Regions from separate parts of the Homo sapiens genome. Here region 1 is linked to region 2. Evidence: fine-mapped expression QTL. A gene starts in region 2. The other region holds a variant in brackets. All regions are shown on one strand. Distances are from middle to middle. Region 1 overlaps EP400 (E1A binding protein p400). Region 2 holds the start of NOC4L (nucleolar complex associated 4 homolog).

Region 1 (15,988 bases), 62 kb before region 2:
TGCCGCGTTCTCTGTACTACGTGGCTCATGGAAAAAGTGACAACATGGCTTCCTCTAAATCATTTCACCTTTCAGTCCCCACCCGCACCCGTCCCCTAGAGCCATAGTACTGTGTTCTGAAAGCCATTTAGAATTTCTTTGTGAGCATGTAGTGCTTTGCACGCCACAGAAGCCGTCTGCCGTGTGTGAGGAGCATACAATGGACTTTCTAAAGATAAGGCGTGGGCTTCCACAGTGTCTGCCAGAGTTTAGTTCTTTATACCTTACTGAAAAATGCCTCGTGGTCTTCGCAGAGGGGAAGGCCTGTCTAAAGTCAATCATCCGAGATGGGTTTTCCATTCCAAAGAAAGGCAATATGGTTCCTTCCTTCCCTCCTAAAATATGACTTAACTTTTAAGAGAAATGTTCTGACACCCACCTAAACACACAAGGCACGTTCCTGGCCTGTGTTCAAGGGAAATGATCAGTCATTGCATTGTTATTCCAAAGAGCAGCCAACAGTGGCCTCCCCCAGGCCCTACCCTGCAATGGGATTCGCTTTCATTTAATGGAAACTTCTGGGACTGATGCCCAACTCAGTGCACTCAAGACGCATCTCCAGTTTTCGGGGGAAGCTGGTATTTGACATAGTGTGTTAAACAGCTCCTGAGAACCTTTGGGACACTCTGCCATGGCTGGCGTGAGGCCCAGAGGACCACGCAGAGGCAATGGTAGTACAGATGTCACAGCTGAGGGTACGATGAGGCCTGGGCTCAGTGAGCCAGGACGAATGTGACAGACACCCCTTGCTGCCACAGTCAGCCCTTTGACGAAGGTGGGCTGGTGATTCTGGAAGTATTGGCTATAGCGGTGGGCCCAGTCAACTCTTCCTTGTGGACTTACGACAGCAGATTTTCTCTAGGATAAGCTTGTGTGGTTCTGCCAGTGAAGCAGAGAACCACCTGTGCTGTTGTGGAAGGCGTGCCGTTGAGGGGGAAAACGAAGCCCAGTATTTGCTACTGTTTTTCCTTTTTTTACTATGACAGGAAAATAAATGCAATTTTAGTGGAATTGATTGACAGTGTCTCCTTACTTTGAAGTTTTCACCAAAGCAAAAAGGTCCATATCCAATAGTATCCTTTGTGCTGTGGCTTGATTTTGGCCTATTTTACATTATTTGGTCCAGGAAATTAGGTTATATTAGGTTTTTTGTATACTAAAAATCAGTTATGGCACAATAAAGATTTTCTGTTTTTAAATTGTATTTCATCTGCTTCCTCCCCATTCTCTCACTTTAAGTGACATTGAGGAAGGTATTCTGTCCCACAGGTTTCTGTGGACAGCGATACAGCAGGAGTCAGTGAAATCAACTGGGGAGCTCACTTGAGCTCTTGATAAGAAATGTGGAGAAAAGTAAAAACCAAGCTTTGAAGAAACAGAAGAAATTAATCTTTTAGTTAGTTGAACATACCAAAGCAGAGGACTGGAATCTGTTTGTTCTAACCAACCCGTTCTCCCTGGCTTGGCACGTGCCGTGAGAGCGCAGCTTGCCGGAGGGAGGGCCGCTGTGTGCGCCTCACATCTGGCTCCCAGTGGAAACTTTTACTCCTCCTCATCCGCAGATGTGATAGAACTGAAGTATCTAGGAATTCTGCCTTTGTCATTTGTTTTAATTTGTGTGCCCTGTTCATTTTTTTTGTCTTTCCCAAATCTTGGTAGTCTCCTTATAGTTGAAGATAAAATGTTGAGTGCACTTATTTTAGAATATCCTAGACATAACTGTCTAAGTAAAAGCGCTCTATTAATCTAAAACACTACAAGAGAATTTAACACCATCTCTCAAATGCTTTTTTGGAGAGCTTAATGGGATTCTGAATATTTGCAATGTGGAGTTTCCGCCCCGATCTCACGTCAGTGAGGGTCTCCTGTCTCTCAAGTGTGTTTCCTTTGGCTGTTCCCTAATACAAAACACGGACATATTTTTACTCGTAGCACTCAATTTAGTAACTTCTAGATGCTACCGTTGACCTGAGTTAAATTCATTTAGTCGTGTACGTAAAAACTCTCCTTTTAGTGTGTTATTTTCTTGGCCTTCCCTTTTAAAGGTTAAAGTTTCTAACCTAAGAATTAAGTACGCGTTCAGGAAGCTGTTGTCTAGGCCTTCCCCTTGTGAATCTGGGTTCATTCCAATACGGCAAGTAAGAGTTGGAAACTTTGAGAACACAGACTATAAAGGCAGCAGCCCGAACACTGTCAGACTCTAATTGGCGACCCTGGGAAACAGTTGCCCTGCTATTCTTTAAAGAAAGACGTTTATTCTGATGATAAAAACAGTTAGCCAGACTGTTTTTAAAGCACCTGGCGGGAAGCAGAAGGTTGGATCCAAGCCCTTGTTCAGATTTGGTGCCTGATAAGACAGGGGTTTCTCTTTTTGTGACCTTTATTATTATTATTTTGTTAACTGTTGTAACCAGTTAGCTGTTGTGTTTTAAGATAGAAAGGAACAAGACTAAAATTGTAAATACTTTGTAAACATCAGCATTTGTACTTGAATAGTAGGATTTTAAAGGGCATTGATAGCATACCAAACAAAAGGCAAAATAAAGTGACCTTTTTATATATTTTTTCATTTTGTCTTTCATAGAAAACTGGTATTTAAGTTAAATGAGATGCTGAATTTTTCATTTGTGTGAAGAAAAAACCAACAAGTAATGTTGGAGCCAGAGGTGTTCCCCTCACCCACTCTTCCGTGGCCATAGAAGGACCTGGAAGGAACAGAAATCACATTCACCAAGTCCACCAGGCAGCCGCTTCCCAAAGCCGCACGTGGAGGAAAGAGCTGGCACCGCCCTGCCCCATGTGGCCTGCCACCCTCACAGCACCCGTCGTCAATGTCCTGGGGGCCACACTGGCACCAGTGTCCTTCCACACCCAGTCTGTGTGCCCAACTGGCACCAGTGTCCTTCCACACCCAGTCTGTGTGCCCAACTGGCACCAGTGTCCTTCCACACCCAGTCTGTGTGCCCAACTGGCACCAGTGTCCTTCCACACCCAGTCTGTGTGCCCAAGTAAGGGCAGGGACACCGGCTCACAGGTGCTCACCACCGAAAACGCCTGTGAGCAGATGGCCTGCGAGTTGTTGCTTCTCTTTTTCTTCTGCTTTTAGACTTTTCTTCGTTTCGTTTTAAATCTGATTACAAAAATCAACGTACACTTTTAATTGAAAACGCACACATTACGCAAAGTAAAGAAGCATCCCAGAAGCCCCTTAGTTTCTGTATCTTTTCTCCCACCACAAAAACGGGGGTGCACGGGCACTTGGCCCTGCAGCTTTGGGCTTCCACCTCCGGTCTTCCAGATTGAAAGCTCCCAGGGTCTGGTTGCACACTTCGTGTCTGCAGGTGATAGTGCAGATACCAGGGTGGGCGAGAAAGCCAGCTGCAAAGCCCGGCTGGTGCTCCCTGGCCTCTGGGGGTCTGTACTGCAGTGCCTGGTGCACCTGCGGCTCCATGCCTACCAGCCACATAACCAGGGGCAGGTGACTTCCTCCTTCAGGGCCTCTGTGTCCCCATGTCCCCTCTCCTAAGGTGGCTTGAGGATCCAGTCCAATGTTGGGTGCTGCACTTGGTGTCTGTCTTTTATACTCCCAACGAAGAGGACTGCAGGTTTTGCAAAGCCTACTGTTTCTGTCATCCTGACCCTACCATCACGTCTTTGCCAAGTGTGCCTGTGGCAGCAGGCCCTATGGCGGGCTTATCTGGCCTGGAAGCTGTGTTTCTGTTTGCTGTCCAGTAGCGACCAGGGGCCAGTGGGTGAAGCAATTGTGCCTGCGCACAGCCGTCAAGACCTTAAGGTAGCTTCTGAGCCCGGAGTGTGTTGTGTCACCTCCTACTCGAGATGTCAGATCGTGTGACAGCTGCCCACCAACACCCCAGAGTTGGGCATTGTGATCCAGGGCAATGGGAGGGGAGATTCCTTTGCCATAGGGTGCCCTGCTATGCTGTTGCTGCAGCATCTATTCCCCTAATTTTTCTAAAGTTCCCATTTTATTGGGTAGATTATGCTATATACATTCGGTGGAATGCAGTGCAGCCTCTACAAAGTACAGCTGTGCTGGGGGATGAGTTTGTGAAGTATGCTACCAGGATGGAACTGGTTGTATGCCTGGATGTGCATAGAATATCCTGGAAGTATTTGCCCCTGCATGTGGTGGATTCTACGTCCATGAGTTCAACCGACCAAGGAGCAAAAATATTCAGAAACAAAAATGTGTCTATACTGAACATATACAGACCTTGTTTTGGGGGGGTTATTATTTCCTAAACAATGCTGCATAACAACTATTTACATGACATTTACATTGCATTCACTATTGTAAGTAACCCAGAGATGATTTTAAAAAGATGTTTTTGAGTTATATGCATTTTGCATCAGGGGCTTGAGCCTCTCGGAGTTTGGCATCCATGGGAGGTGCTGAGGGACGATTGTACGTTGTGTTAGCACTGCCTCTGTGGAGGGAGAGACTGGGGGGCAAGGATCAAGGCTGCTGATCTGCACTGTTATGCGCGTCCTTTTAACTGTTCAGGTAGTTTGCCAAGTGCATGAATTTTTGTGTGGTGGGGGCGGGGTGGGGGTGGGGACAGTCTCACTCACTCTGTCGCCCAGGCTGGAGTGCAGTGGCGTGATCTCAGCTCACTGCAACCTCTGCCTCCTAGGTTCAAGCGATTCTCCTGCCTCAGCCTCCCAAGTAGCTGGGATTACAGGCGCGCACCACCATGCCTGGCTAATTTTTGTATTTTTAGTAGAGATGGGCTTTCACCATGTTGGCCAGGCTGTTCTCGAACTCCTGGGCTCAAGTGATCCGCCCGCCTCGGCCTCCCAGATTGCTGGGATTACAGGTGTGAGCCACCGCACCCGGCCATGAATTAATTTTTAAAATAAGGCCCTATCAGCTTTTTTGTCACATGGTCCCCTACTCGGGAACCTTTATTTCCGACCTCCTGCCTGATCTTGTGTAGCCACCTACACTCCGACCAGCCCCCAGAGCAGCATCGTTCTGCCCCCTGTGCAGCCTTTCCTGTCTCCCTGACTTTGTGCTCGTCTCCTTTGTTGTAAAGTATTTCTCCTACTTTGAAGACTACTCCCACTTAACTAAGTGTGCATCCATTCATTCATTCATTTATTCATTTCTCCCCAGTGTTCTCCTCCAGTAGTATCTTGGGCTGAACAACAGTATTTGTCTTATTTCTCCAGCTGTAGTGTGGCTCTGTTTTATCCCTATTCAATGAATATTTAATGTAGCATATTTCATGCCAACTTTACCACTAGTGCTGGAGTGGCGGAAGGACAACACTTGGCTGTTTAAGAAAATCAAAGCTGGCCGGGCACGGTGGCTCACACTTGTAATCCCAGCACTTTGGAAGGCCGAAGCGAGCGGATCACGAGATCTGGAGATCGAGACCATCCTGGCTAACACCGTGAAACCCCGTCTCTACTAAAAATACAAAAAATTAGCCGGGCGTGGTGACGGGCGCCTGTAGTCCCAGCTACTGGGGAGGCCGAGGCAGGAGAATGGCGTGAACCCGGGAGGCGGAGCTTGCAGTGAGCCGAGATCGCGCCACTGCACTCCAGCCTGGGCGACAGAGCGAGACTCCGTCTCAAAAAAAAAAAAAAAAAAAAAAAAAAAGCTGATCAGAGAGATGGATGAATTACTGGTTTATTCAGCTGTTTATAAAGTACATACTATGTGGCAGTTTAGACAACTAGGCTATACTTGCCAGCAAAATAAAAAAGGGGGTTGCATCCTAGCAGGTCAGATAAAATAATTCAGGGGATAAGTACCATGAAGAAATGGACAGGTGGTAAGTGATACGGGTTTCACTCTTAAATAGATGGGCAGGTTATGCAGTGGAAGGCGCCTGATGCACAGCTCCAAAGCTCACCCGTCTACAGTGGACACGACGAAACCAGGGACATGTCCCACCATTTCAGTGGTCACAGGCAAGAGTCTTGTGGATCTTCGGATCCCACGTAACATCTCATCTCCCTAGGCACCCCGACTCCCCTGCCCAATTTAAAACAGACCTCAGCCTGCCCCATCCCGGCTGCTTTGCCTGGTGCTCTTCTAACTGCATGTTTATCTATCCTCCCCGCCTAGACTGTAGGGCCCGCGAGGGGAGCCGCTAGCTGTGCTTGTCAGTGTGACCAGCGCTCAGCAGGTGTCCGGCGGGAGGGCGGGCAAATACAACTCAGTGCCCACGTGCGAATGAA[T/A]GAACAAACTAGTTCCGGGCGGAGCCAGAGGCGCGCGCCGGCGCGGACCGAGGCCCGGCCCTATCCGCCCCGCCCCCTCCGCCCCGCCCCCTCCGCCACGTCCCTCCGGGTCCGCTGGGCGCTGATTGGTCCGAGCCTCGCCTGCGCAGTGCCGGGCCGGCTCCCGCGCTTGCGCACTGGCTCCGCGTCGGCCGGTCGGTTTGGTCGGTTGTAGTGGCCTCGCCGCCCGGTCCGCTGTCGCAGCGCTCATCCGCGCCGGGAGCCCTTGGCTGCGTCGCCCGGCAGCCGCGGTGAGTGACGGCCCGCGTATCCGCTGCCGGGGCTGTGGCGGGCGTGAGGGGTTGGCCCTACCCTCGGCCCCCGACCGCCCACATCCGCCGGTTACCCTCGAGGCTCCCCGGCCGCGCGCTCCCCTCTCTCCGTCCCATCACCCGGTGACCCCGGCTGAGCGAACGCCCACCCCTCCCTCAGGGACCCCCTCCCCGTGACACGATCCCCCGTGAACGCCCACCTCCCTCAGTGAACACTCCCCCGTGACATGACCCCCCGCAAACGCCCACCCATCCCTCGGTGACCCTGCGCCCGTGAGCGCCCACCCCTCCCCCTGCGACCCCTCCCCCCGCCACCTGGCAACTGCCGTTTTCCCGCCTTCCCTCCTCCGCCCCCTCTCCCGCATCACCCCGTTTTCTGGTGACCGCTCCCCCCCATCCCGTGACACAAACCCCCGACCTCCCAGCCCTTCCCCGGTGACACGATCCCTGTGACCGTCTGGCCCGGTAACCGCCCCTCCCCTCATGACCCTTCACCCAGTCCCCTGGTGCCCACCCCCGTCACTGCCGCCCGCCTGGTTCCAGCCTCGCGAGACCGCTGTCTACGGCGCTGACGCCGCCTCTGCCTCTTGACCCCTTGGCCCCGCTGTCCTGATCCCTGAGGTCGGGGCCTGGTCTGCACTCCAGGAAAGACGAGTGCGCTTAGTGTGCGCTGCACGTGAGCAGTGAAGTTGATTCCACGCGCTGCGCTGCTCGGCAGCTGTCCCAGAACTGACCACGGACCCCTCCGCGGGTCCTGCTCCTGACAAGGGCCTTCCGGCACTGGGAGTTTTGTGTTAGTGGAAAGGAAGAATCTAATAATACCACCACCTTTACAGTAAAGACGCTGCGAATTGACGCCTTTTATAATAAAGACACTTATCTTGCCCAAGAGCTGGGTGAGTATTTCCTCCTTACCAAAAAGTTGGTTTACTTACAGTTAACTGGCTGAAAGTTTGAGTCTTAGGCTTATTTGTGCCGCTCCAGGCAGGCTGATTGGCGCTGGTTTCCATCTGTCAGATTGGACAGCAGTACCACTGGCTGTTGGGGGCTCACGACCAGATAGAGTCTTGTCTGGGAACCACAAGTGAGTGTTGTTACCACAGCTCTGCAGCAGTGAGGGCACCTCTCAATCCACGTGCAGTCGCCCCACCTTATCTTCAGGGGATACGGTCCAACACCCTCAATGGATGCCTGAAATCAAGGATAGTAGTGAACACTATATACACTGTTTTGTTATGCATCCTTCCATATCTACGATAAAGTTTAATTCATAAACTAGGCACAGGAAGAGATTAATAACAGCTAATAATAAAATAGAACAGTCGTAACAATATACTGTAATAAAAGTCATGTGAAAGTGATGTCTCTCTCCTAAAATATCTTACTGTATTGTACGCACATGTTTTTGAACTGCAGTTCACCGAGGGTTACTGAATCCATGGATAAGGGGAGATTACAGCAGTTTCTTTTCTGACTATGTTATTGAGACTTCAAAACTAACTAAATTGTTCGTTGAATGGAATTGTCCAAGGTGTACAAAATGACAGTTGTAACACAAAGGTGTTTCACTGACATCCCTGTCACGTTTTTGCTAAACTAATGCACTTTTAAAAATTATTATTTATGCTGGGTGTGGTGGCTTATGCCTGTAATCCCAGCACTTTGGGAGGCTGAGGCGGGCAGATCACCTGAGGTCGGGAGTTCGAGACCAGCCTGACCAACATGGAGAAACCCGTCTCTACTAAAAATACAAAAAAAATCAGCCAGGTGTGGTGGTGCTTGCCTGTAATCCCAGCTACTTGGGAGGTTGAAGCAGGAGAATCGCTTGAACCCAGGAGGCGGAGGTTGTGGTAAGCTGAGATCACACCACTGCACTCCAGCCTGGGCAACAAGATCGAAACTCCGTCTCAAAAAATATATATATTACTTATAAAAGTCTGTACTTCATGTTCAGTCACAGTAGAGACAAGTAGAAACTCCCTCCTTCAACAATACCTAGCACTCAAGGAGAGATGGCCTTACAGAGTCAGCATGTGGTGCAGAGGTCTCTTGGCCATGATTTTAGGTCCTCCTGGGTCCACATCGTCCCACCTGGCCATGGATACGTTGTCATCTGATCTGTTCACTGTTAAGGTAACAGTTGTCATAACTACTACAAAATGGTTAAGTGTTAGGACTTTAATGATGGTGATCATGTAATAAAGGGCCTGGAGGATAATGGCATGCTTACGAATTTTCTGGGTGGTATTCACATGTTTGAAAAAGCATTGAAATGTATGATTTTGGGTGATGACTCTGAGAAGTATGGAGCATGACCCATTTTGAATAGGAGAACAGAATGTTGTAAAGTGATTCTTGGTCCCCTAAGAGTCCATTGACAACCACCATGTAGAGGAAAAATGGCAAAGAATGGGCTCTCTCCAAAGTCAGGTGCTGAGGCCCTTCTAAGGAGGAAAAGCCAACGCCCTTTCACTGTGGTTTCCAGCTGCTACAGGAACAAATAGTGTCTATCTGTGTCCAGCTTATTTTTTGACTTCTTTGAGTCTGAAGATACTTTGAAAAACTTTGATTTGCCAGAGTAATTTTTTGTACCTTGGAATGAGCCATATTTTTAATTTGCTTTTTGATGTTACAAAATGTACCCTCATAAGAATTCAAACAATACAGAAAAATAAGTCCTTTTCAGTCCTTTTGTGCTGTAATAACACCCTCCATCTTTTTTTCCATTTCAGTTAGTAATATGTCTTCAACATCTGCTCATGTCAGGAAATAAAAATTTATTCTCTTTTTTTTTTTTTTTTTTGTTTCGAGACGGAGTCTCGCTCTGTCGCCCAGGCTGGAGTGCAGTGGCGCGATCTCAGCTCACTGCAAGCTCCGCCTCCCGGGTTCACGCCATTCTCCTGCCTCAGCCTCCCGAGTAGCTGGGACTACAGGCACCCACCACCATGCCTGGCTAATTTTTTGTATTTTTAGTAGAGACGGGGTTTCACTGTGTTAGCCAGGATGGTCTCGATCTCCTGACCTTGTGATCTGCCTGCCTCAGCCTCCCAAAGTGCTGGGATTACAGGCAAAAATTTATTCTTTTTATGTTTACATAATAGTCCGTACTGAGGATACAACATATTTAGTCAACCATTCCCCATTGATGGATTTCATTTTGTGTCTGTTTTTTTGCCACAGTTTGTACTGAGAGACACATTCCTATGCATGGGTCCTGACACTTTCTTTCATTTCTACAGGCTAGATTCCCATGAAGGGGAGCTAAATGGTGTTAGTGGGTCAAAGGGTATGCATATTTAACATTTAAATTTCAATAGTTATTGAGAGATCTATTCCCAAAGTTATAGCAAAGTTACATTCCTGAAGCCATGAAGGGGAGGACGCTTTGCTCCCGTCTGACATACTGCCTGTTGAATGGGTGCTGCCATGTCCTGCTGGCGCCGTGTGCTGCACTTCGTGGACTGGCCCATTGGCAGTGCCTCTTCTGAAGTTTTCCATTGTGTTCTTCCCCATTTCCTGGAGAGGTTTCCTTTTCTTTTCTTTTCTTTTTTTTTTTTAACTATTTTATAGTAGCTCTTTTTTGAGATGGAGTCTTGCTGTGTCGCCCAGGCTGGAGTGCAGTGGTGTGATCTCGGCTCATTGCAACCTCCGCCTCCCAGGTTCAAGTGATTCTCCCGCCTCAGCCTCCAGAGTAGCTGGGATTACAGACGGGCACCACCACACCTGGCTAATTTTTGTATTTTTTAGTAGAGATGGGATTTCACCATATTGGCCAGGCTGGTCTCAAACTCCTGACCTCAAGTGATCTGCCTGCCCTGGCCTCCCAAAGTGCTGCACTTACAGGTGTGAGCCACCGCAACCAGCCAAACTCTTTGGATAACAGGGATATTTACCCTTTGAAGTAATAAAATATTGCATGTATTTTTCTGCTAATTATTTTTTGTCTTTTGATCTTGTTTAAAACATCTTTTATGTAGTCATGTATTTTTTCCTTTACAGCATCTGGGTTTCCTGCATTACTTATTAAGAAGCTTTCACCACCTCGCAGTTGTAGAGATAGTCCCCGAAATATTATTCCAATAAAGTGTTTTCCTCCTTTCCTCCCTGCCTCCTCTTCCTTCCTTCCAGGATAACATTTAGTTCTTTATTCTGACTGAAATGGTATGAGGTAGGGGTGTTTTCCTCCTTTCCTCCCTGCCTCCTCTTCCTTCCTTCCAGGATAACATTTAGTTCTTTATTCTGACTGAAATGGTATGAGGTAGGGGTGTTTTCCTCCTTTCCTCCCTGCCTCCTCTTCCTTCCATGATAACATTTAGTTATTTATTCTGATTGAAATGGTGTAAGGTAGGGGATAACCTTTTCCCCCCTAGATGCTACTACCATTTCTTTTTCTTATTTTAATGTAATTAAAAATTTTAAAGGAAAGTTTTTTGAAACAGAGTCTCACTCTGTCACCCAGGCTGGAGTGCAGTGACACAATCTTGGCTCACTGCAAGCTTGATCTCCCGGGCTCAAGCAATTCTCCCACCTCAGCCTCCTGAGTAGCTGGGACCACAAGTGCACAGCTAATTTTTGTATTTTTAGTAGAGACAGGGTTTTGCCCTGTTGCCCAGGCTGGTCTTGAACTGCTGGCCTCAAGGGATCTGCCCACCTCAGCCTCCCAAAGTGCTGGGACTACAGGCGTGAGCCACCATGCCTGGCCTTAATTTTTAATTGATAAATAATTGTTGTATATATTATATATTTATGAAGAACGTGATGTCTTAATGTGTTTATATTACAGAATGATGAAATTGTGCTCATTAACAAACCCATCACCTCACACACCATTTTTATGTGGTGAAAATATTTAAAATCTACTCTTTCAGAAATTTTGAAATATACAATGCATTCGTATTTATTATAATTATCATCCTCTGCAATAGATCACTAAAACTTACTCTTTCTATCTAACTGAAATTGATCCCTTTGATCAATATCCCCCTTCCCTTTTTCCCCCACCCCCCGGCCCCAGTAACCACTGTTCTCTCTGTTTCTATGAGTTCAACCTTTTTAGATTCCACGTGTAAGTGAGATCATGTGGTATTTATCTTTCTGAGCCTGCCTTATTTTACTCAGCACAGTGTCCTCCAGGCTCATCCATGTCCTTGCAAATGACAGAATTTCCTTATTTTTTTAATGGCTGTATACTATTCCTTTGTGTTGTATATATACCACACTTTTTAAAATCATTCATCTGATGATGGGTACCCAGGCTACTGTGAATAATGCTGCCATCAACATGTGAGTACAGATAACTATTCAACATCCTGATTTTGTTTCCTTTGGCTGTGCACCCAGAAGTGGGATTGCTGGATCATATCTTCATTCTATTTTTATTTTTTTGAGGAAGCTTCGGACTGTTTTCTATAATGGCTGTACTAATTACATTCTTACCAACAGTGCACAAGGGTTCCCCTTTCTCCATATCCTCGCCAACACTTAACTATCTTTTGTCTTTTTGGTAATAGCTATCCTAGCAGTTGTGAGGTGATAATCTCATTGTGGTTTTGCTTTGCATCTCCCTGATGGTTAGTGATGATGAGCCTTTTTTCATGTATTTGTTGGCTATTTGTATATCTTCTTTTGAGATATGTCTATTTAGGTCTTTTGCCCATTTTTAAATTAGGTTGTTTTCATGCTATGGAGTGGTTTCAGTTCCTTATATATTTTGGATATTAGCCCCTTATTAAATGTATGGTTTGCAGATATTTTCTCCCAATGCCACTACCATTAAAGTATCTATACATTTTTAATCTTTTTCCTTTTTCTTTCCTCTTTTTCTTTTTTCCATAAAAACCTGTTGGCTTTTGTATGTTTATCTTGATTACAGACACTTCACCGAATTCGAAGTATTCTTATAAGTTTTTGTCTCGGATTTTGTAGGCATGGAATTATATCATTTGCAAATAAAGATAATTTCAGGCTGGGCATGGTGGCTCACACCTGTAATCCTAGTACTTTGGGAGGCCAAGAGCATGCTACTTTTTTTTAGTTTAAACTTTAAATTTTTATGGCTACACAATAGCTGTATATACCTACATTGCTTTTTTATTACAGAAGCTCTAGAATAAGTATGACTATTTTCCTAAGTCAGGAATTCTACTATTTTGTTTTTCTTTTATTTTGTCAGTATTCTTATGTTTTTCAAAAAAGCACTGTCTCTTTAAAAACATATCACTTCATTGAGCTTTAAGCTAATTTTTTTCTTATTTCTAAAGCAAAACAAAACCCAAACTCATTGTAATCCTCTTTGGAATTGCATTACATGTATATGTTCAGTTGTGAAGGCATGACATTTTATGATAGTAAATCTTATTCTGGAACATGGTATGTTGCTTCATTTTATTCGTGTTTTTTTGAGACGGAGTTTTGCTTTTATTGCCCAGGCTGGAGTGTAGTGGCGCAATCTTGGATCACCACAACCTCCGTCTCCCAGGTTCAAGCGATTCTCCCGCCTCAGCCTCCTGAGTAGCAATTACAGGTATGTGCCACCACAGCTGGCTAATTTTGTTTTTTGTTTGTTTTTTTTAGTAGAGATGGGGGTTTCTCCATGTTGGTCAGGCTGGTCTCGAACTCCCAACCTCAGGTGATCGCCCGCCTTGGCCTCCCAAAGTGCTGGGATTACAGGTGTGAGCCAACGCACCCGGCCTTATTCATGTATTTTTTAATGTTCTTTACTAACATTATATAGTTTATTTCTCTTCTTGGTAAATGTACTTCTTGGTAAATGTACTTCTTGGTAATGTACTTGGTAAATGTACTTGGTAAATGTACACTGGTATTTTATAGTTTTTGTGGCCTTTGAATGGGACATCTTAAAATTTCCATTTCAGTTGTCTATCGCTGACATAAAAAAAAAGCCTGTTGATTTTTGTATATTTATCTTGATTGCAGGCACCTCAACAAAATTGTTATTCTTTTTTTTTTTCGAGGCCGAGTCTCACTCTGTCGCCCAGGATGGAGTGCAGTGGCGCAATGTCGGCTTACTGCAACCTCTGCCTCCCAGGTTCAAGCGATTCTCCTGCCTCAGCCTCCAGAGTACCTGGGATTACAGGTACTCGCCACCACACCTGACTAATTTTTTGTATTTTTAGTAGAGACGGGGTTTCACCATGTTGGCCAGGCTGGTCTCAAACTCTTGACCTCAGGCGATCTACCCACCTCAGCCTCCCAAAGTGCTGGGATTACAGGTGTGAGCCATTGTGCCTGGCCAAATTGTTATTCTTACAAGTTTTGGTCTCGTGGGTATTGTAGGCATACAATTATATCATATACAAATAAATATAATTTCAGGACAGGTGCGGTGACTCATGCCTGTAACCCCAGCACTTTGGGAGGTTGGGGCAGGAAGATCACTTGAGCCCAGGAGTTTGAGACCAGCCTGGGCAACATGACAAAACCCCGTCTCTACAAAAAATTAAAAAATTAGCCGGGTGTGGTGGGGGGCGCCTGTAGTCCCAGCTACTTGGGAGGCTGAGGTGGGAGGATCACTTGAGCCTGCGAGGTCGGGGCTGCAGTGAGCCAAGATTGTGCCACTGTACTTCAGCCTGGGCAACAGAGTGAGACCCTATCTCTAAAAAATATATATGTAAATAATAATAATAAATTATATTCCCTTCCCTCATTACTTAGTTCATGTTTCTTTTTATTTTTAACTGCTAAAACCTCTGTTGAAGTGCTACATAGAAATGGTGACATTTGCATCCTTGTGTTCCTGATTTAATGGAATTAGTTTCTGCATATCAACATTTAATATGATTATTGCTGTTGAGTTTTGGGAGCTAGTTTTTAAAACATTATGTTCAATTTGTTTCCTTTGATATGTGTTTTACTTTGAATTATTATTCAGAAGAACTGCTAAATTTTGTATCATTTTTTTCATTTAGTGGCTTTTAGCTTTAAAATGATGGTGAAGTTTGTAGATTTCCTGATATTGGCCCACTCCCTGAATTACTGGACTGACTCCCCTTTGTCAGTGTGTTTTTCTTTGAGTGTATGCTCGGTTCTATTTATGAATTTTTAAAAATAATTTTTATACCACGCATATGCAAAATTCTTATAAGTTTATTGCTTTTTTGTACTGTCAGGTTTGGGTATTAAATGCTAATTTCGTAAAGTGAATTAGAGAGATTTCTATTTTTTCCATAAACTTGAAATATTTAAATAGCATAGGAATTACTTGAGCTTTAAAGGTTAGAGCTCAGTTAAGTAAAATTCCATTGTCTCTTAGAGTCTTTTAAAACAATAGATATTTAATTTTCTTTTTGATTTTTTCTTTTTCTTTTTCTTTTTTTTTTTTTTTGAGACGGAGTCTCGCTCTGTCGCCCAGGCTGGAGTGCAGTGGTGCGATCTCAGCTCACTGCAAGCTCCGCCTCCCGGGTCAACGCCATTCTCCTGCCTCAGCCTCCCGAGTAGCTGGGACTACAGGCGCCCGCCACCACGCCCGGCTAATTTTTTGTATTTTTAGTAGACACGGGGTTTCACCGTGTTAGCCAGGATGGTCTCGATCTCCTGACCTCGTGATCCGCCTGCCTCGGCCTCCTGAAGTGCTGGGATTTCAGGCGTGAGCCACCGCGCCTGGCCCATTTGTCTGTTTTTATTTTTTCTTTTTTCATTAATCAGACTTGCTTGGACTTTATCCATTTTATTTATTTTTCCCAGAGAATCAGTTTTTGGTTTAATTTAGCCTTTCTACTACTTTTGTTTGTTTGTTTCATTTTGTTGTTTTCAGTTTTTGTATACTTTCTTAAATTGAACACTTATTTTCAGCCTTTTATTTTGATAATAAAAATACTGAAAGCTGTAACTTTTTCTTAAAGTACAGCTTTGTTTCCCATAGGTTTTAAAAGAGAAATACTCTATATTTTGTTTGTTTTTTTAACTTTCTAGAGAAGTTCGTAATTTCATGTTTAATTTTTTTTGGTTCAGATATTATTTAGTGGTTTTTAAAAACTTCCAACTACTCTTTGTCATTTTTATGATGAATTTCTAGTTTTATGAATTTGGCATCTAAAATATAATTAATTTGTTATGTATAACCTTCATTTTGGGGACTTAATGCATATTTTATTTATGGCCTATAAAAATTTCACAAGTACAAAGTTGTTTGTTTGTTTGTTTGAGACCGAGTCTCGCTCTGTCACCCAGGCTAGAGTGCAGTGGCGTGATTTCAGCTCACTGCAACCTCCCCCTCCCAGGTTCAAGTGATTCTTCTGCCTCAGCCTCCCGAGTAGCTGGGACTACAGGCATGTGCCACGACGCCCGACTAATTTTTGTGCTTTTAGTAGAGACAGGGTTTCACCATGTTGGCCACGCTGGTCTGGAACTCCTGACCTCATGATCTGCCCACCTCAGCCTCTCAAAGTGCTGGGATTACAGGCGTGAGC
Region 2 (15,040 bases):
CTGGAGTGGGCACCCCCACCCCACAGAGGCCTTGCCCCTGCCCAGGAACTCACAGCTGGATCTTCCCCTGTTCAAACTGCTTCAGGATCATCCTCCTCTGGCCAGGCCCGTAGCGCGAGGAGAACTCAGCCACGTCCACACCCCCAAAAGCTTGCACCAGCAGGAAGAGCCTAGGCAGAGAGAAGGCTGCGGCCAAGTGATGCTGGGACCAGAGGCCACCTCTGCCACCCCCGCCCAGCCGGGGCCTCACCTGTGGGAGTTCTCTCGGGAGTTAGTGAAGCAGAGAACCCTCGAGAAGCCCATCTCCAGGACCAGGTGCAGGACGACCAGCGGCTTAGAGCTGAGGCTGCAGGGCACGTAGTGGTGCTACAGGGACGGCAGGGGGTCGGGGTGGAGGTGAGGGTTGGTTAGGGGCCCCAGGTTCCCAGTGCAACCCTCTGCCCACACGGTATCCCACTCACCGTGAGCCCAACAGGAAAGGCATACTTCCCCGAATCCCCGTCCCCATCTGTATCTTCCAGGCCCCTGTGTGCTAGCCCTGTGGAGAAAAGCCGGGGCTGGTGGAGGCCCAGCTGCTGCAGCTTTTCAGGGTTCTGGGTCAGAGTAGCTGAGAAGAGCAGCTTCTGCAGGGGCATCTGGGGACAGCAGGTGCTGGAAGAGAAGGGGGTGTTGCTGGCACCCTACCAGTGGCTGCCCCGAACCTCCAGGGAACAGGATTCCTCATGCTACGCACTGTAGAGACTGCCGCAGACCAGGAGCAAGGTGGGTCCAGCTCACGTGACAGTACGATGCGGTTCTGTGCACCAGAGCTCAAGCCACCCTTATCTCTGGGCATTAAGGAAGGAGAGCTGTGTGCAGAGGACTCTGCTCAGGGGAGGCCAGCACCTGGGCGTGCTGCTGGATACCTGGCGGCTGTCACAGCCTGGGCCTGCCTTCGCTGGAGCAGGGCACAGGGGTCCGCGGGGTCCTCGCTCTGGAAGGCGGCCGCCACCACCCGCGGCAGCCAGGACTGATGCATGCTGTCAATCATCCGGTCAGCCTCGTCGATAATCTGCAGGAGACAGGGAGCCCGGGACTGGGTGGCGCGGCCCTGAGCTCAAAGCCCAGGCCCCTGGGGCGGGGACCTACCAGGAAGCGGAGCTGCTGGAGGCTGAATCCTGGGGTCTGGTCGATGTGGTCCACCAGGCGGCCGGGGGTGGCTACCACGATGTCAGCCAAGCAGCGGTACCCATCAGCTCTACAGACCAGAGAGCAGCTCGAGAGAAGGAAGCTTTCTCAAGGGCTTCCGGATAGCAAGACGCTGCCTCACCCCACAGCCCCGACTCCACCCCACATGGGAAGGGGGCCGGTGGGAGCTCCTCCTCTTCACGGGAACAGGTGGTTAAAGATGGTGGCCCCTCCTCTGCTCCCACGGTGCCTCAGGCCACCTGCAGGGCTGAGCAGGGACCCCCTGAAAAACCCGCACCCTGACACAACCTACGTTTTCTGGACGAGGCTCTCCTGCTCCTTGGCCAGAGACTTCTGTCCCGTAACCAGGGAGACTCTCAGAGGTGTGGCATCTGTGTAGATGTTGAAAACTTTGCTCACCTGCAGGAGAAGTCTGTCACTGGCCTGGAGGTAGCTGGTGTCCACCTACTGCAGCAAAAAGGACCCCAGATCTAATCTGGGTCCCCCAGGGGCTGATCGCTGTGCACTCAGCAGGGAAGCTGAGGCGGGCGGTGCCACGCTCCAGGTCTAGGGTCCACATACCTGCTGGGCCAGCTCCTTGGTGGGCAGCACAACCAGGGCACGGATGTGGCAGACCACTCTCGAAAGCAGGGCCTGAGGGGGAAGGAGCGCCTGCGTCAGCAAGGCTGTTACCTGTCCTCTGCACACCCGCTGTAGAGAAAGGGGACCCTCACACAGACCTGCACCACAGGGATGACGAAGGCCAGTGTCTTCCCACTGCCTGTTGGGGCAGAAACACAGAGGTCGCTAGGCCGGTAGCCACCTCTGCCCACCAGAAACCCACAGGCTGCGCTCTCCAGGAGGGCAGGAATCACAGCTGCCTGGACTGGATGAGGAAAGGCGAGAGAGAAGTCGTGTTTACGCCTAGGCCTAGGCCTGCCGCTTCCCTGCCTGTGACCTCTGGGCTGGGCTGCTCTGCTGGAGGCCTGGGAACCGCTCCCCAGAGGGATGGCACCAAGGCCCAGAGGAACGCCAGCCTCAGGAGACCCAAGTGGGAACCATGAGCTTGAGAGTGCTGAGACCACACTTGGCACCGATGTGGCAGGGACGCCTGACCCACGGCCACTCACAGCCTTGTGTGTGGGTGCCCAGGGAGGTGTTCCCTCAGCTGCCTGCCCGGGGCTGGGGCACCTGGAAAGTAGGACGAGATGCCGTGTGCCCGCAGCTGCTTCTGCAGGTCAGGATGGACGTCAGGGATGTCCTCGATAGGAACCAGGTCTTCGGTGACATTCCTTCTGACACAGTTAGGCTCAGCCAGCCACCTTGGCAGGAAAGGCTGGACCTGCCATCAAAAAGAAAGAGAGGCCAGGTGAGCGCTTTCCAGGCTCTCGCGCAGAAGCCCACGGTGGAAAAAGCTAGGGGAGGGAGGCTGGGGAAACCTCTGTCGTCTTCAGCTCCTTCTCAGCCCCAGGATGCGCTTTCCATACAGCCTTCAGAAGTTAAACAGTAAAAGCAGATGCCACTCCCTGAGCAAACTCACTCTGTAGCCTCCCATCAACCCACAGTGGCACCCACCCTCCCGCAGCCAGGAGGTCCTGTGACCTGGCGCTCGCCTGCCCCAGCCACGCCGGCGTCCCTGCCTCGAGGCCTCTGCCTGGCACCCCCAACCCCCAACCTTGACCTGGCTTCAAGTCTTTGCATCCCAACTCAAAGAGAACCTCCTCCACCTGCCCTACCTAAGGTGCCCGAGCACTCTGTCAAACTTCTCGCTTTCTTCACCTGTCTCGCCGGAAATCTCTTTACCGAAAACCACACGTGCTAAGCAAAAACACCAACGGTCAGGAGCTTGCAGAACGGCCTCTGACTTACTCCTGAGGCGGTGAGCGCACAGCAGGAAACCCCGCACGTTCACGCAAACACATCTTGCAGAACTGGCGCGGCGCGGCGGGAGGACAGGGGCAAGCCTAGCAGAGGAAACGGGAGCTCTGCACGTGCAGGATCCAGACCCCTAGGCGATGAAACTGCAGACCTGGCAGCGAGGCGCGGCTGTGACCCGGGAACATTCGCTGAACGAAATCTTCCGGGGCGACCGCCGCACTTAAGAATCCGCGCAGCCTACCCTCTCACGCCGACCACCCTCCCGCCCGCCGAGGCTCACCTTCGGCGCCTTCCTCTTCCCGAACCCCCCCAGCACCAGGCCGGGGACCAGGGGTCCGGCCGCCTCCTCCAGGGCCGGTCCATCTGGGGCCGCCTCGGCGCTGGCGCTGGTGCTGCGCTCCCCCGGCGCCTCCTCGCTGCTCCCTGCGCTGGGCTCCCCTGGCGCCTCCTCGCTGCTCCCTGCGCTGGGCTCCCCTGGCGCCTCCTCGTTGCTTTCTGCGAGGCAGACACCCACCCGGCAGCGCGTCAGCACCGAGTCGCCGGCGCCCCAGAGGGAGCCCGCTCGCCCCGCGGCCCACCTGCGCCCGCGTCCTCGCCGTCCGCCTTCCGTCGCTTTCCCTGCGGCGCCTCCGGGCTCCCCGGCTCCGCGTCGTTCACCCGCCGCCGCCGCCGGGGCCGCCGTCGCCTCCTGGTCGCCGGCTCGGTCGATGCAGCCGCCTCGGTCTGCGCGGGCTCCCGCTGCTGCTGCCGTTCGCGGGCCCGGCTCTGCAGCCGCTCGAGCAGCGCGCGGGCCCTGCCGTGCGCCCCGGCCTCCGCGCCCTCCGGCCCCGCCGCAGCTGCCGCATCGGGGCCCGGGTACCGCGCGACGTAGAACAGCGCCATGGCCAGCCGCACGCCTGGGACTCGGGCGTGGCGCGCTGCGATGACGTCGGCGGCACGCCTGCGACTCGGGCTCCGCGCAAAAGATGGGGTTGGGGTACGGCGCGTAGAGATGACGTCGGGTTCTACGCGCAGTGGTGACGTCACGGGAGCGCCGGCGGCTGAGAATCCGCGTTGTTCCGTGTTGGGGGCGGCATGGAGCGGGAGCCGGGCGCCGCGGGAGTTCGCCGGGCTCTGGGCCGCCGGCTGGAGGCGGTGCTGGCGAGCCGCAGTGAGGCCAACGCCGTGTTCGACATCCTGGCCGTGCTGCAGGTGGGCCTGGCGGCGTCGCAGGGCCGGAGTCGCGGCACGGGAGCGGGACTTGAATGGGGGGCTGCGGCGGCAGGTCCCCAGGAGGTTCCGAGACGGCGTTGGGGGGTCAGGGTGGGAGGCGTGTGGGTCACGGGTCGGGGGTGACGGGGCTGGCGTCCCGAGGGGGAAGGGAACGGGTTGGGGGCAGCCTAGGCAGGGGCGAAGGTGACAGTTGGCGGCCGGGCACCCTGCCGCCGCCTCTCCTGCAGTCTGAGGACCAGGAGGAGATCCAGGAAGCAGTCCGCACGTGCAGCCGTCTTTTCGGGGCCTTGCTGGAGCGGGGAGAGCTGTTTGTGGGCCAGCTGCCCTCTGAGGAGATGGTCATGACAGGTGAGCCCTGGAGGGCCCCGGGGCTGCTCTTCTCTTTCCGTGGGTCGGAGGGAGGCTTTGTCACCATGGGATGAGCGCCCCCAACCCTGGCACAGGCCGTGCAGGCTGGTGGGAGGACGCACCAAGCCCACCGTGGAAGATGGATGGTGGCGTTGGGGCAGGGGTGACATGGGTGCCCTGCAGCTGAGTGTAGATGAACACTGGACAAGGTACGACTTTTTGTGTGCTTTGCACCCCTTTTGTAATTTGATGTTGACTGATCCTGACACGGTCGCTTAAACTCGGAGCTTCCTTTATGTCCCCATCCTGGGGACGTCAGGTCTTGGAGTAAAGAGAGGGGATGTGGATCCTGCTCCTGGCAGCTTGGCTGGGGCAGTCCTGGGGTAGGAGGTGCTCTTCCTGTTTGCAGGGCTCAGGGAATGTGCTGGTCTCAGCACAGGTCTGGGGGCCTTAGCGACCTGTTTCCACCTGCGGAGGCTGAGTAGAAGACAATGGGAGGGTGGAGCCAGGCCTGAGATTTTGGGCTGGGCCCAGGGTGGCGTATGTGGGCCTCACGTGGGCTGACCACCCTAACCTGTCTGCAGGGTCCCAGGGAGCCACACGGAAGTACAAGGTGTGGATGAGACACCGCTATCACAGCTGCTGCAATCGCTTGGGAGAGCTCCTGGGCCACCCCTCCTTTCAGGTCAAGGTGGGTCATTGGGCTGGCCTCATCCTTGTCCATCCCCTGCACCCCAACTCCCAGGTTATCCACAAAGCAGAGGTCTGGGGCTCCCACAATTGTCCAGGCAAAGCTGCTTCCTTCATGGGAGCATCACCCTGTGGGTGTTCAGTCCCATTCAGAAACATGGCTATCGAGTCCTGTAGTGAATATTGAAGACGCAGAATCCGTGTTCATTTCCAGTGGCATCCACGGGGATCTCTGTGTTTGCATAGAGCACGCACACCAAGCCTCGTGCCAGTCCACAGATGTGTTTGCTCAGATCACACTGTGGTCTGCAGCCATGGGAATGCATTATGAGCTTTCTTAAAATCTGTAGTGAGGAATAACTGAGGCACAGTTTACCGTTTAAAGCTGAGAAGTTAGCATCTGTTACTGTGTTGTGCAGTGGTTGCCGCTATCCCAGAACATCTTTATCGCCCCGAAAAGAAATCCTGTACCAGTTACCATCGCTTCCATATCCCGCCCCTTTCCACCCCCAGCCCCAGGCAGCCACTCCTGGATCAGTGGTTACTTCCTGGATCAATGGGTTTGCTTTTTTTAGACGCTCCTCATAAGGGGGATCATACGGTATGTGGCTTCTTCCACTCATCGGCGTGTTCGAAGTTCGTTCTCTTTGTGGCTGAGTAGCAGCGCGTCGTATAGCACAGCACGTATCGTTCAGCCGCTCGTAGGTTGCTGGGCATTTGCGTCGTTTCCACCTTTGGCTGTTACGAACAGCGGACTGTGAACGTTCGCGTACAAACTCTTGTGTGATGTTTCTTTTGCTTGAATATGCCTTATCAGTGGAATTACAAGGCCACACAGCAGCTGTGTTTTTAATGTTCTGAGGAACTACAAGACTGTTTTCCATAGTAGCTGCGCTATCTTACCCTCCCCCTGGCAGCATTTGAGAGTTCCATACTCCACATCCTCGCCAACACGTCTGTCTATAATTATAGCCGAGCTGCAGACTTTTAAATGTTGGGGAGATACCACGTGAAAATAACCAGTTTCCACCTTCTCAGAAAGAAATAATCAGTTCTGTCAACACGGGGTCTAAGTTTGTTCATGGCTGCGATTGGCTGGAGGGAGAGTCAGAGACAGCTCTGAGACAGCCGTGTGCTCCTGTCATCCCGCACGAGGCTCTTTTGCTTTGTGGTGTCATTTGCCTGGGCCCTGAAAGCACTGAGTTTGCCACCCCGAGATGAGAGCTTCCAAGCCTGGGTCTGAGTTGGGCACCATGCTGGCATCACACGCCTGTGTTTTCACAGCTGTTCCCAAGGGTTATGGTGGCATTCCCGTGACACAGGTGACGAGAGAGCAGTCAGGTGGCCCATAAAGCAGACCTGGGCTGTGTACCCTTCCCCCGCCAGACTCTGTCGTGAGCACTGGATCTCTTTAACTAGAGATCTTGTCATCTCTACGTCATGGGTGGGACACGGAAGCCCAGAGTGGCATCTGGTGGCGTGTGGAGCAAGAGAAGGCCCGGCCGCCCTTTTCTCAGCTCTGGGCCTAGATGGGAGGGGCTCCCTGACTGGGCTGAGCTCTGGGCCCATCCGTGGGGTGAGGGCATCACAGCCACCCTGCACTGCCCCCTTCCCAGGAGCTGGCCCTCAGCGCACTCCTGAAGTTCGTGCAGCTGGAAGGAGCGCACCCCCTGGAGAAGTCCAAGTGGGAAGGCAACTACCTGTTCCCCCGAGAGCTCTTCAAGGTGAGGGCCTTGCTGGGGACTCCCAGAGGGCCTGGCTGGCTGGCCAGATCCCAGGATGGCCCCGTAGTGGGGGCGGGGCCTGCTGAGCTGAGCCTGGCTGTTGGCTGGGACACTCCTGTGGCTCCTGTGGCCCACCCAACCAGGAGGAGTCTGCCTGGGGGGCTCGATGGGGCAGGGCTGCCTGCCTGGACCTTGCTGGCGTATGCTGGGCCGGGCAGGGCTGCTCACTGGTCCTTGCCCCTAGTTGGTGGTGGGAGGCCTGCTGTCTCCTGAGGAGGACCAGAGCCTGCTCCTGTCCCAGTTCCGGGAGTACCTGGACTACGACGACACCCGCTACCACACCATGCAGGCAGCCGTGGATGCCGTGGCCCGGGTCACTGGCCAGCACCCCGAGGTGGGTGATGGGGTCCTGTCGCCAGCATCATGCTGTTGCCTCCCAGGGAGGCAGGGACTGGGGGGCGGCGTCCAGGCACTCAGGCCAGGCTCCGCAGGTGCCCCCCGCCTTTTGGAACAATGCCTTCACGCTGCTGTCTGCCGTGAGCCTGCCCCGCCGGGAGCCCACCGTCTCCAGCTTCTATGTGAAGCGGGCGGGTGAGTGTGCTGAGAGTCAGGGGCGGACAGGGCTGAGCCTTGGTCTGCCTCCCCTGCGGGTCAGGTGACCTTTGCCCTCGCTTTCCCTGCAGAGCTGTGGGACACCTGGAAGGTTGCTCACCTGAAGGTGAGTTGCTTCTGGAGAGCCGGGCACCCTCCCGGGTTTGGGGGTGTGTGTGGGGTGCATGTGAGACCCCATGGAGGCTGCCGCCTTCCTCACCAGAGGAAACTCCCAGGGTACAGGTGGCAGCTTGCACGGCCACCAGGTCACTCGAAGTGTGGGAGGTGACGAGACCTGTGAACTCGGGACCCTCCCTTGGGTCAGAGGCCACCGCCGCCTCTTGGAGTCAAGCCTCTGGTGCCACCTGTGGGCCCCGTGGGCTGTTTTGGGCGCAGCCCCCCTCTTGGCCATGGTCTTGCCAAAGCTGCTTTCTTGGCTGTTCTGAGACTCCAGCCTCGAGGGCAAGGCGTACCTGACTTGAATGGGGACAGGAAGAAGGAAGGCAGGGTCAGAAAAGTGGAGAGCAGGCTTGTGTTGGCTCAGGCTGGGCTTCGGGGTGCCCTGGCAGCTGCTCGGGCTCTGGTCTGGGGTGGGGAGGGCGGCGAGTGCAGTCTGGACCCCGTTGCAGGAGCACAGGAGGGTTTTCCAGGCCATGTGGCTCAGCTTCCTCAAGCACAAGGTAGGGGCCAGGCCGGGGAGGGGGCGGGGGCGGCATCCGGGTCTCCCCCAGGGCGGAGGCCTCACCCCGACCCGCCGGCCCCCGCCCACCCGCCCCTCACCCCCACCTGCCGGCCCCCGCCCAGCTGCCCCTCAGCCTCTACAAGAAGGTGCTGCTGATTGTGCATGACGCCATCCTGCCGCAGCTGGCGCAGCCCACGCTCATGATCGACTTCCTCACCCGCGCCTGCGACCTCGGTGAGTGCCGCCGCCTCGCTCACACCACACCCCTAATCCCCTCGGTGAGTGCCGCCGCCTCACTCCTACCACACCCCTAATCCCCTCGGTGAGTGCCGCCGCCTCACTCCTACCACACCCCTAATCCCCTCGGTGAGTGCCGCCGCCTCACTCACACCACACCCCTAATCCCCTCGGTGAGTGCCGCCGCCTCACTCCTACCACACCCCTAATCCCCTCGGTGAGTGCCGCCGCCTCACTCCTACCACACCCCTAATCCCCTCGGTGAGTGCCGCCGCCTCGCTCACACCACACCCCTAATCCCCTCGGTGAGTGCCGCCGCCTCGCTCACACCACACCCCTAATCCCCTCGGTGAGTGCCGCCGCCTCGCTCACACCACACCCCTAATCCCCTCGGTGAGTGCCGCCGCCTCGCTCACACCACACCCCTAATCCCCTCGGTGAGTGCCGCCGCCTCGCTCACACCACACCCCTAATCCCCTCGGTGAGTGCCGCCGCCTCGCTCACACCACACCCCTAATCCCCTCGGTGAGTGCCGCCGCCTCGCTCACACCACACCCCTAATCCCCTCGGTGAGTGCCGCCGCCTCGCTCACACCACACCCCTAATCCCCTCGGTGAGTGCCGCCGCCTCACTCACACCACACCCCTAATCCCCTCGGTGAGTGCCGCCGCCTCACTCACACCACACCCCTAATCCCCTCGGTGAGTGCCGCCGCCTCGCTCACACCACACCCCTAATCCCCTCGGTGAGTGCCGCCGCCTCACTCCTACCACACCCCTAATCCCCTCGGTGAGTGCGGCCGCCTCACTCACACCACACCCCTAATCCCCTCGGTGAGTGCGGCCGCCTCGCTCACACCACACCCCTAATCCCCTCGGTGAGTGCCGCCGCCTCGCTCACACCACACCCCTAATCCCCTCGGTGAGTGCCGCCGCCTCGCTCACACCACACCCCTAATCCCCTCGGTGAGTGCCGCCGCCTCACTCCTACCACACCCCTAATCCCCTCGGTGAGTGCCGCCGCCTCGCTCATACCACACCCCTAATCCCCTCGGTGAGTGCCGCCGCCTCACTCACACCACACCCCTAATCCCCTCGGTGAGTGCCGCCGCCTCGCTCACACCCCTAATCCCCTCGGTGAGTGCCGCCGCCTCGCTCACACCACACCCCTAATCCCCTCGGTGAGTGCCGCCGCCTCGCTCACACCACACCCCTAATCCCCTCGGTGAGTGCCGCCGCCTCGCTCACACCACACCCCTAATCCCCTCGGTGAGTGCCGCCGCCTCGCTCACACCACACCCCTAATCCCCTCGGTGAGTGCCGCCGCCTCGCTCACACCACACCCCTAATCCCCTCGGTGAGTGCCGCCGCCTCGCTCACACCACACCCCTAATCCCCTCGGTGAGTGCCGCCGCCTCGCTCACACCACACCCCTAATCCCCTCGGTGAGTGCCGCCGCCTCGCTCACACCACACCCCTAATCCCCTCGGTGAGTGCCGCCGCCTCGCTCACACCACACCCCTAATCCCCTCGGTGAGTGCCGCCGCCTCGCTCACACCACACCCCTAATCCCCTCGGTGAGTGCCGCCGCCTCGCTCACACCACACCCCTAATCCCCTCGGTGAGTGCCGCCGCCTCGCTCACACCACACCCCTAATCCCCTCGGTGAGTGCCGCCGCCTCGCTCATACCACACCCCTAATCCCCTCGGTGAGTGCCGCCGCCTCGCTCATACCACACCCCTAATCCCCTCGGTGAGTGCCGCCGCCTCGCTCATACCACACCCCTAATCCCCTCGGTGAGTGCCGCCGCCTCGCTCACACCACACCCCTAATCCCCTCGGTGAGTGCCGCCGCCTCGCTCACACCCCCAACCCCCACCCCGCAGCACCTCTTCCCCGATCCCACTGCCTCCACCCCCCACTCCCCTGCCCTGCATGTGGTCTCCAGCTTTGTGTCCGTGGGGGCTGTGGGAGGGGACAGCAGGGGCAGAGGCCACACTCCACAGACTTACACTCAGTGTGGGCAGGGGGTAGGGTGGGAGCGAGGTCACTGCAGCTCCAGCCTGTGTCTGTCTGTCTGCAGGGGGGGCCCTCAGCCTCTTGGCCTTGAACGGGCTGTTCATCTTGATTCACAAACACAACCTGTGAGTGTCACCAGGGGTGCAGGTCTTCTTCCCAGTCTGCCCAGCCCTGCTCCTCTGTCCCCTTCCCACCCTGCCCCACGGGGTCCCCGCTTTCCTCACAGGCCATGGTGTTGGAGTCCCTGGGCGGGAGGAAGGGGCGCCGAGTGAGACCCTGGCCTTGGAGGCCTCAGTTCCCGGGCCCTGCTCCATCCGCTGCTCCTTCCCCCCGGCCCGCAGGGAGTACCCTGACTTCTACCGGAAGCTCTACGGCCTCTTGGACCCCTCTGTCTTTCACGTCAAGTACCGCGCCCGCTTCTTCCACCTGGCTGACCTCTTCCTGTCCTCCTCGTGAGTACCAGGGCACCTGGCTCTGCCCTGCTCTGTGCGGCTGCAGCCTGGGGCCAGGGGAGGGTGGTGGGGGCTAGCAGTCCGGGCCCTGTCTCACAACCACTGCCCTGCCCAGCCACCTCCCCGCCTACCTGGTGGCCGCCTTCGCCAAGCGGCTGGCCCGCCTGGCCCTGACGGCTCCCCCTGAGGCCCTGCTCATGGTCCTGCCTTTCATCTGTAACCTGCTGCGCCGGCACCCTGCCTGCCGGGTCCTCGTGCACCGTCCACACGGCCCTGGTGAGTTGCGGGGCCCTCGGAGGCTGGGCTGGAGCTGGGGCGGGGGTGCCTGGTGCTGTGGACGGCAGACAAGGGCCCACGTCTCATTCCTAGAGTTGGACGCCGACCCCTACGACCCTGGAGAGGAGGACCCAGCCCAGAGCCGGGCCTTGGAGAGCTCCCTGTGGGAGCTTCAGGTGAGGGCGCTGCTGCCACACCCTGGGGCCTCCCGAGCCATCCTTCGGCCCCTCAGAAAGCCCAGCTCCCCGTGCCACCTCCCGCATAGCCTCATGTTGCGTCCCCAGCTGGCCACCTGGGTTTGTGGGTGCTGGGTGCTTGGCCTTCTCACGTGGCTCCGTCCCGACCCCGCCCACTCTGGTTGGGAGCACAGGGAGGCCATGGCTGGGGGCACAGGGCGGGGGCCTGGGGCAGCTGCCTCTTAACGGCCCTACTGCCCCAGGCCCTCCAGCGCCACTACCACCCTGAGGTGTCCAAAGCCGCCAGCGTCATCAACCAGGCCCTGTCCATGCCTGAGGTCAGCATCGCGCCACTGCTGGAGCTCACGGCCTACGAGGTGCGGAACTGGGCCAGGGTGCGAGGGTCTGGGCCACGGGGCGCTGAGCCAAGCCTGAGAGCCGCCGTGCTTTGTGCTTTGCAGATCTTTGAGCGGGACCTGAAGAAGAAGGGGCCCGAGCCGGTGCCACTGGAGTTTATCCCAGCCCAGGGCCTGCTGGGACGGCCGGGTGAACTCTGTGCCCAGCACTTCACGCTCAGCTGACCCTGGCCCACCTGTGAATAAATCTCAGCTGACCCCAGCCCACCTGTGAATAAATGTTTTTGCAGGAGAAAGGCTCAGGGAGTGTGGACTGGGGCGGCTGGATGCCTCTGCCAGGCCGAGGGCCTCACATCTGCCTGAGCCCACCAGGCACATGGCAAAGCGAGGCCCCTGCCGACTCCACAGCCTGGGAGGGGATGGTGGGGAACCTGAGGCGTGGTCTTTCCCAGGGCCTCCGGCCCACCAGTGTCACCGGTCACCCAGCCTCCCTCATCCCCTGGCCCCAGTGACCTCCCTGTTGGCAGAGCTCGGGGCCTCTGCTGAGGTTACACTCCAGACACCTGGGAGGGAGCAGGGTTGGGGGGGTTCTCTCTGCCTGGGTCAGTTGTGGTGGGAGGTGTATGGTGGTGTAGACGGGTATGGTGTGTGTGGGAGTGAGGGGAGGTGGTGTGAGTGGGGGGTCAGTGTGACTGGGGGGAGTTTGGTTGTGAGTGGGGGTGTTGGTGTGAGGGGAGAGTTGGTGTGAATGGGGGGGTGGTGTGTGTGGGGGGTGGGTTAGGATTAGTGTGAATGGGAGGTTGGTTTGAGTGGGGGGTGTTGGTGTCAGTGGGGGGTTGGTGTGAGTCGGGGGTTCCTGTGAGTGTCAGCATCCCACGCTGGCTGTGTCCTGCCGATCTGGCCTTCGTTCTGGGAGCCCCGCGAGGCCCCGGGTGGATGCCGCGTGGAGTTCTGGGTGGATGGTGCGTAGAATTCCGGGTGGGTGCTGTGTAGAGGCCCCGGGTGGATACTGCGTAGAGTTCCGGGTAGATGCTGCGTAGAGTTACAGGCAGTGCCTGGGCCCCTCTGGAGTTCCCTGCCCCCACCCCCGTGGGAGGCCCTGGTCCAGCTGCAGTGGAGTTTCCCCCGCTGTGGGAGGCGCTGGTCCGGCTGCAGCACAGCCTTGTTATCGGGGTGTTTATTTTTAGGGAACCAAATTTATACCAAACAAACTAGGTTTTCTGTCTACACAGTGACCCCCAGTTTCCTTTTGACAGTCTGCTTATTCGAGGACAGGGTGGGATGGGGCACTGGAACAGAGCTTGGTGCGCGTGGGTGTGGCTGGGGAGGGCGGGGAGTGCCTTGGCCGTGGCTTGGGGGTGTCACCCTGCCGGCCCAGCATTGGCCGGGACCCTCCGTGTGCCCAGCGGGGTTTTGGGGGGCAGAGTGATGGTGGAGATGTTGCCTCTGCTCCCAGCATCCCCCTGGCTGCTTCCCTCTGCCCCAGCGGGCTCCTCAAGTGAACTGGCTCCTGCCCCAGGGCCTTTGCACCAGCCACAGCTGTGGCCTCTGCCGCTTTTCCCTGTGTTGCCCTGGTTTGAACGTCCCGTCCCCGTCCCCCCGGGAGGCCTTCCCTGGTACCCCGTGCGTGGTAGTCCTGCACAGGCGCCCCTCCTTCCCCACTCTTCATGCTGTCCCGCCCGAGCCCTCTCAGCACTCCCGCTGCAGCAGGGCAGACAGGGCCCGTCCTCTTGCTGTGTCCCAGGCAGCCTGTCACACCGGGTACGCTCCAGAGCCCTGGCCCCCCTCCCCGCCCTCCTTGGGCTCCTGGGGCAGGGCTGGGCCTAGGTGCTGGCATCCTGAGCTCATGCGGCCACCAGAGGCCGCTGCAGCCTTGCCCAGGCCTGCAGCGCCCGAGCTGCCCTGCTAGGTTTCACCTCGCCGGGGTCTGCAGTATTTCCTGCTCGGATTCAGCCAGGGCCTCCCTCCTGACATCACGGAGGGTTTGTGCTGGGCTGTTAGGCGGATCTCGGATGATGGGCGAGGCCAGGAGGAGAGTGAAAGCGCCTCCGAGTCAGCCAGGCTTGGATTCTGTCGTCAGAGGGGCTCTGTGTCTAGCAACCTCCACGTAACCGTGTTCGGTCCTCTGCTCCCTGTGTTCCCCGCATGAGCCGGGCATGAACAGGGACCTCCTTCACCGCCTGAGGTCCCCTCTCCCTGGCTGGTGACCCCCATCTCTGAGAGCACGGGGACGTCCCCTGTGCTGTGGAGGAGCGTGTGCTCTCCGAGATCCAGGTGCTGCCCCCGAGGAGCGCATGCCCTCTGAAATACAGGTGTTGCCGCCATCCCCGAGAGCACGGGGACGTCCCCTGTGCTGTGGAGGAGCGCCTGCCCTCCCAGATCCAGGTGCTGCCCACCAGGCGGTGTTAGGAGTGCCTCGTCCGCAAGGGCGCCATCCTTGTTAATGGGATTCAGGCCTTTGTAAAAGTGGATTCTTCACGTGGTGCTGAGCCGGCTGCTCTCTGGCCTTTGGCCTCCTGTCAGGTTGGGCGCAGCCAGGAGGCCCTCGCTAGAGGCTGGTGCCTTCATCCTGGACTTCCCGGCCTGCGGAACTGGAGAGAAGACAGTGTCACTTTTTAGAAGTTACCTGCTCTCAGGTAACCTGTAACAGTGGTGCAGACGGACTGAGACACCGTCAGTTCCAGAATCTTAGAGAAATTCCAGGGGCCCCTTCAATCACCTATGAGGCCAATACCCAGCCGGCACCTGCGTGTACCCGGCGGTGTCCTCACTGCACACGGAGAACAGCGCCGCACCAGTGGGGCCTCTCTCCCCCTGTGCTTCCCCCGCTCCCTCTCTGTCTTGTCTCTCCCTCTCCTCCCGTCCCCCGATTCCGGGTCTCCCTTCAGGAAATGAACGCGGCTGCCGGACAGTGAAGTCACAGCTACATCCGTAATGAGGGATAGCTGAAGAGCTGTGGAGCGCGCGTTCCGGCGATAAGGGACGCTGGAGCGTTTAATTGGCGTTGAGGAAATCAGCTGCGGAGAATCAGCAGTCGTTTCCCGAGCGTCGGTCGTGCTGGGAGCTGTGGCGAAGGCCCCGGCGGTAAGCGATTCCCGCTGGACAGCGAGGAGCGTGTCCGTTCCCTGCGGTGTCTGGGTCTTCCCCCACTGGGGCCAGCAGCCCACGGTGAAGGCCATGCCGGTCTCCAACGGCGCGGGCTCCACTCCCGGCTGGGAGGGTGGCACGGCCCC

The links. PIP is the estimated chance that this variant, and not a neighbour inherited with it, causes the effect.
Region 1: its variant is fine-mapped to the expression of NOC4L in thyroid (GTEx, PIP 0.98). The same link has a PIP of 0.9 or more in whole blood.

The regions. Positions count from the first base shown.
Region 1 is chr12:132,077,861-132,093,848 of GRCh38, forward strand. EP400 (E1A binding protein p400) reads left to right here. Exons shown (of 53, transcript NM_015409.5): 53 at 1-2,600. It also overlaps the pseudogene EP400P1. Among named protein-coding and RNA genes, the nearest start is that of SNORA49, 55 kb to the left of the region's middle. RefSeq lists enhancers at 5,024-5,525, 6,942-7,802, 7,344-7,393 and silencers at 6,184-6,263, 6,284-6,733, 8,578-8,754. The variant T/A (reference allele first, on the strand shown) is at 6,250.
Region 2 is chr12:132,140,370-132,155,409 of GRCh38, forward strand. NOC4L (nucleolar complex associated 4 homolog) reads left to right here and starts at 4,088. Exons shown (of 15, transcript NM_024078.3): 1 at 4,088-4,236; 2 at 4,485-4,605; 3 at 5,190-5,296; 4 at 6,912-7,019; 5 at 7,264-7,413; 6 at 7,511-7,610; 7 at 7,703-7,737; 8 at 8,240-8,290; 9 at 8,415-8,526; 10 at 10,612-10,672; 11 at 10,889-10,999; 12 at 11,115-11,275; 13 at 11,369-11,451; 14 at 11,715-11,828; 1 more. The coding sequence starts at 4,120. The coding sequence ends at 12,032. DDX51 (DEAD-box helicase 51) reads right to left here and starts at 3,950. Exons shown (of 15, transcript NM_175066.4): 1 at 3,624-3,950; 2 at 3,326-3,540; 3 at 2,359-2,509; 4 at 1,908-2,053; 5 at 1,750-1,821; 6 at 1,481-1,587; 7 at 1,129-1,237; 8 at 906-1,051; 9 at 462-651; 10 at 251-366; 11 at 54-170. The coding sequence starts at 3,927. RefSeq lists enhancers at 2,036-2,941, 3,871-4,170, 13,907-14,407 and silencers at 3,541-3,740, 3,811-3,860.